2 separate regions of the Homo sapiens genome follow, and region 1 is linked to region 2. The links come from fine-mapping of genetic effects on gene expression. A gene starts in region 2. The other region holds a variant in brackets. All regions are shown on one strand. Distances are between the middles of the regions.

Evidence for each region. PIP is the estimated chance that this variant, and not a neighbour inherited with it, causes the effect. A credible set is the group of variants that fine-mapping cannot tell apart.
Region 1: its variant is the best candidate, but not a certain one, in a credible set for the expression of PCAT7 in prefrontal cortex (CommonMind, PIP 0.58).

The regions. Positions count from the first base shown.
Region 1 is chr9:94,618,251-94,621,159 of GRCh38, forward strand. FBP1 (fructose-bisphosphatase 1) reads right to left here. Exons shown (of 7, transcript NM_000507.4): 2 at 2,079-2,241. Among named protein-coding and RNA genes, the nearest start is that of FBP1, 20 kb to the right of the region's middle. The variant C/T (reference allele first, on the strand shown) is at 1,508.
Region 2 is chr9:94,553,604-94,556,512 of GRCh38, forward strand. It overlaps PCAT7 (prostate cancer associated transcript 7), which reads left to right and starts at 1,480. Exons shown (of 3, transcript NR_121567.3): 1 at 1,480-1,742. LOC124902218 (a long non-coding RNA gene) reads right to left here and starts at 1,286. Exons shown (of 2, transcript XR_007061674.1): 1 at 956-1,286. RefSeq lists enhancers at 1-354, 1,019-1,681.

The DNA.
Region 1 (2,909 bases), 65 kb after region 2:
TGCTAGGGTTGAGATCTATAAGAAACTTCTCATGGAGGTCTTACAGATGCCCCTTGAGGTTGGGGTGCATAGAGTTTTCAAAAATATCCTGGCTGGGCACGGTGGCTCATGCCTAATCCTAGCACTTTGGGAGGCTAAGACAGGAGGATTGCTTGAGCCCAGGAGTTTGAGACCAGCCTGGGCAGCATAGAGAGACTCCTTCTGTAAAAAAAAAAAAAAAAAAAAAAAAAAAAAAAAAAATTCAATTAGCTGGGCATGATGCTGCACATCTGTAGTCCCAGCTACTCAGGAGGCTGAGACAGGAGGTATCACTTGAGCCAGGAGTTCGAGGCTGCAGTGAGCCATGACTGTGCACTCCAGTCTGGGTGACAGAATGAGGCCCTGTCTCTAAAAACAAAACTAAACAAAACAAATTTCTAGCGTAATTCCCAAAGTAGATAACTTTCAGTGGTAGTGGGAATACCGCAGATTCCTGTTTTGAGTGGGATTTTCAGTGGTGTGCAGGAGCTGGCTGGTATCGGCTCTCAGGAGCTAACGGTGCACATCTCTTCCCAACTCTGCCTTCAGTGATATCACATTGGTAGCTTAAAATCAACGATGGGAGAGTATTCACACCATTGACAGAGGCAAGTGGACATATCAGAGACTTGTTTGTTTGCTTTGAGACCCAGTTTACCAGCACATCACTGGGAGTTTTCCATCTCCAAATTAGCCACTTTACAATGTCGTTTTTAAATGTCTGTAGCAGATTAACATGATTCCCTGCCCTCTTGCTCTTCACAGACCACCCTCACTAATGCAGGAGGAACTGGAAACTGGAACACAGGAAGCTGCCTATCATGAAGGCCCATGATAGACAAGAGAAGTCCGGCGTGAGTGATGGAGAATATTAAACAACAAATCTAAGCCATACGCCTAAAGCTGCCAAAGACCTTGAAAGGCCCAGCTGAGAAAAACATGAACTTCAAGTCTGGCATGTACGGCTATTTTAGGAATGATGAAAAACAACTTCATCAGATGTGGCTCCTGCCCTCTTAATAGGGTGAGGACAGGCAGCCTCTTCATCTTCTCATTGTTTTTTCCTAATTCTACTCCTTCATGTTCCCAGTTCCTCTCAAACTGGGAAAGATAGTAAGCCCATATAACTGCACTTCTAATCTCAGAAGTTTTTTTTTCTAATTACAATTGTTGTTTTATAAAAGCTGGGAATACTCTTTCATTTAACAATCTTTTTCAACAGTCATTTGTTGTTGAGGCCCTCCAATGTGCCAGGCATTGCACTAGACACTGGGACACAGAGACAAATAAGATTCATTTTCTGCTCTCAAAAAGCAGAGATAACGCCAGGTGTGGTGGCTCACACCTGTAATCCCAGCACTTTGGGAGGCCAAGGTGGGCGGGTCACTTGAGGTCAGGAGTTCAAGGCCAGCCTGGCCAACATGGTGAAACCTCATCTCCACTAAAAATACAAAAATTAGCCAGGTGTGGTGGCGGGAACCTGTAATCC[C/T]AGCTACTCAGGAGGCTGAGGCAGGAGAATCGCTTGAACCCAGGAGGCGGAGGTTGCAGTGAGCCAAGATCACACCACTGTACACCAGACTGGGCAACAAGAGCAAAACACTGTCTCAAAAAAAAAAAAAAAAAAAAAAAAAAAAGAAGCAGAGACAGACCAATAGGGACTCCAATGCGTGCATCAGGGATGGAAGTTTCAAGCAGTCTAGGTCAACAGGAGGGTCAGTGTGAAGGTCAGGAATTTGGTGGATAGGGATGTAGTACAAGAGGTGACCAACAGAAGCCAGGGTTTGAAGAGCCTTAAACATGGCAATAAAAAGTTAGAAATGGAGATGAGTTTGTGGGAGTCCACTGGGGAGAAGGCGGCGTGAGCCACAACACTCATCTGCACAGTGGCTCAGGGAGGATTCGAGAGATGGCAGCAGTGAGGTGGAAGCTATGAAAAGACCACAGCAGGGATCTAGAGGGACTCCCAGAAACCCAGCTCAGCTGAACAAGTGGAGTCAATTATGAAGCTGGGAAGAAGACCGGCTACATTAAAACCCTCAATGGTGGAAGTACAGACCCACCCTTTTCTCCGGTTCCACTATGATGGCGTGTTTATCTTCTTCTGACACGAGAACACACGTGGCAAAGGATGACTTTAACATGTTCATAACCAGGTCGTTGGAGAGGACGTCCAGCTTCTTAACTTGATCACCTGTCACGTTGGTAGAACCAGCAATGCCATAGCTACAGGGAACAAAAGCCACAAAAAATAAGCCATGACCACCAGAACATGTAGATGAGTCCATAAACCCACCAAAAGTGAGTGTTCGGTAAGATTTAGAAGAAAGAGTTCATGTCCTTTGCAGGGACATGGATGAAGCTGGAATCCATCATTCTCAGCAAACTAATACAGGAACAGAAAACCAAACACCACATGTTCTCACTCATAAATGGGAGTTGAACAATGAGAACACATAGACACAGGGAGGGGAACATCACACACTGGGGCCTCTCAGGGAGCTGGGGACTAGGGGAGGGAGAGCATTAGGAGAAATACCTAATGTAGATGACAGATTGATGGGTGCAGCAAACCACCATGGCATGTTTATACCTATGTAACAAACCTACGCATTCTGCATGTGTATCCCAGAACTTAAAGTATAATAATAATTTTTTTAAAAAAGGGCCGGGCGTGGTGGCTCACGCCTGTAATCCCAGCACTTTGGGAGGCTGAGGCGGGTGGATCATGAGGTCAGGGGATCGAGACCATCCTGGCTAACATGGTGAAACCCCGTCTCTATTAAAAAATACAAAAAAGTAGCCGGGTGTGGTGGTGGGTGCCTGTAGTCCCAGCTACTTGGGAGGCTGAGGCAGGAGAATGGCGTGAACCCAGGAGGCGGAGCTTGCAGTGA
Region 2 (2,909 bases):
GCGTAGGAGAAACTCAGACCCAGCCAGCCCTCTCCACCCAAGTGCTGGTTCCCATTCCTCACGCCTCCACCCACAGTGCCCTGTCCCCCTCCCTCCCCCGTGGTGCCCTCTATTCCCTGCCCGGTAGTCCCAGATGGTCTCCACAACACAGAGCGTGCGTGAGGGCGCGGGCCAGGGAACCACAGTGGGTGTGAGAGCCCTGCGGTGCTCAAGATTGCATGAGCACGAAGAGATCACCCTCTAGAGTCTGGAGTCCGGGAAGAGAAGAACTCCATCCTTCCATGGAGGCCACCAGAAAGAGGAAGGAGGCCACAGCTGTCGCTGCCGCTGCTGCCTCTGCAGCCCACCAACCCCACTGGCAGTATAGCCCCCGATAGCACCCCTAACCTGCCCCCTGTAACCCTGGGATAGCACACCCAACAGCTGCAGGCAATGTAACCAATACCCCCCCAAACCATCCCAACTCCTCGGCCGCAGGCAGTGTTAGCACCCGATAGTGCCCACCTGACGCAGCCACGGGTATTGCTGCACTAGACAGCGCCCCAAACCCGCCCCACCCTCACCCCGCCATGGGCAGTGCAGCTCCTGATAGCGCACCCCCAGTCACAGGCAGTGCAGCACCGGACCACGCCCTTAAACCACCCCCCACTGCCAGCATTGTAGCCCCAGATAACTCCACCCAACCCGCCCCTGCCACGGACAGTGCAGCAGAAGACAACGCCCCTAAGCCATCCACCGCCACTGGCAGTACACGTTAGTGTACACAACCTGCCTCTCCCGACCACCCCTGCCACCTCGGGCAGTGTAGCCCCCCATTCCACCACCAGCAATGCAACCCCAGAGAGTGCCCCCAAACAGTCCAATGCCACAGGCAGTGTAGCCTTTGGCAGTGAGCCCCTATAGTACACCCAACCCTTACCCCCAGAAGAGGGCAGTGCAGCCCTGGATAACTCACCTACCCTACCACATTTCTACCACTGTGGCCGAGCTGCGGTCTCTGATTTCACCACCAACCGCAGCGAGGCGAGCCGCGGAGGCGCAAGCTCCGGCTCCAGCCTCCAGCACGCGGCGGTGCCTCTTCTTTCTGTCTTCCAGCCCGGCAGGAGAAGCTCTCGCTGCTAGCCTCCCTCCTACCGCTCCGTCACCACCACCACCAACAGGGAGGGAGTGCCCCAGGCTCCAGGCTCCAAGCTCCAGGCTCCAGGGGGCGAAAAGTGACGGAGCCTTCCAGTTCTTTAAGCCGGGTACGTAGTAGCTCCCCACACCCACACATAAGTGCCAGAAATGACGCGCCGCTGCCTCAGCATGCTTTATATACTGAGGTTAGGAGACCCTGGACTACATGTTCTGATTGGATGAGAGAAAAACCTCTAGGCCTACTCTGATTGGACTTTATTTTCATGCTGTGATTGGTTGTCTTAAGACTTGCTCTCATCCAATCAGAACATGCAGTCTAGGAACCGGCATGCGCATAACCTCAGGATATAAATAATGCTGAAGCAGAGTTACGTTTTTTTTGTTGTTGTTTTTTTTGTTTTTGTTTTTTTAGGTTTCCGTGTGTTTCTATTGAGCTGCTCAGTGCCCGGCTTAGAAGACCAGGAAAAGGAGTCACAGGTCGTATGCTGGAGGCTTGAGCCGCGGCACCGTGGCGCGGCTCGCCTCGCTGCGGTTGGTGGTGGCGGTGGACATTGCAGCGCGGCTGGAGGGGTAGGAAGAAGAAGATAGTTTTGGGATAGATAGAGGTGGGTAAAGAGTGTGGTTAGTGCCAAAGGGAAAAAAGGATAGCGAGGAGGAGAAGGCGTTGCAAAAAGACGATGGGGAAAAGATGGTGGGGAAAAAAGTTTTTGGGTAGATGGAGGTGGAAAAACAGGGTGCAGAGAGGGAGGGAAGGAAGGTTTTGCAGAAAGACGGTGGGTAGAAAGTTTATGGGTGGATGAAGGGGGAAAAGAAGGTGGCAATTGGGAAGAGGAAAGAGTGGTGAGGGGGGGAAAATGGGCGAGCAGTAGGGAGAGAAGGTTTTGTGAAAAGATGGTGGGGAGAGAAGTTTTTGGGTAGAGGAGCAAAAGAAGATAGCAAGTGGGAGAAGGAAAAAGAGGGTAACCAGCGGGAGGAAGACAAGGTTTTGCGAAAAAACAGTGGCAGAAAAGAAAGATGGTGGAGAAAAGATGGTAGGTAAAAAGTGTTTGGGTAGATGGAGGAGGGAAAGAGGGTGACAAGGAGGAGGAGAAAAGAGGGTGGCGAGAGGGAGCAGGGAAAGAAGTTTGGGGAAAAGACGGGAAAATAGTTTGGGGTAGATGGAAGGCAAAAAGGAGGGTGGCAAGCAGTATAGGGGAGAGAAGAGAACGAGTGGGAAGCAGGGGCAGACTTTGTGAAAAGATGGGGAAATTTTGGGGGGTAGATGGGGAAAAGAGGGAGGTGAGCAGGAGTGGGGAAAAGGCTTTGAGAAAAGATGGTGGGGAAATGTTTTTGGGTAGATGGAGAAGGGAAGGAGAGTGGCAAGGAGGAGCCGGGGGAAAGACGATGAGGAAAACAGTTTTTGGGTAGATAAAGGGGGAAAAGAGGGTGGTGAGCAGCAGTAGGGAAAAGGCTTTGGGAAAAGACGGGGGAAAATGTTTTTGCTTATATGAAGGAGCAAAAGGGCGTGATGACAGCGGGAGGGGGAAAAAGAGGGTGGCCAGGGAGAAGGGGGAAAATACGGTGGGAAAAAAAATACGGTGGGAGAAAGTGTTTGGGTAGATGGATGGGGAAAAGCGTGGTGAGCGGGAGAGTAGAGAAGGCTTTGCGAAATGACGGTAGGGAGAAAACGGTGAAAAAGTTTGGGGTAGATGGAGGAAGAGAAAGGGTGGTGAGAGGGAGAGGGCCAAATGCGGTCAGGAAAAGAAGGTGGGGAAATGGTGGGGGACAAAGGT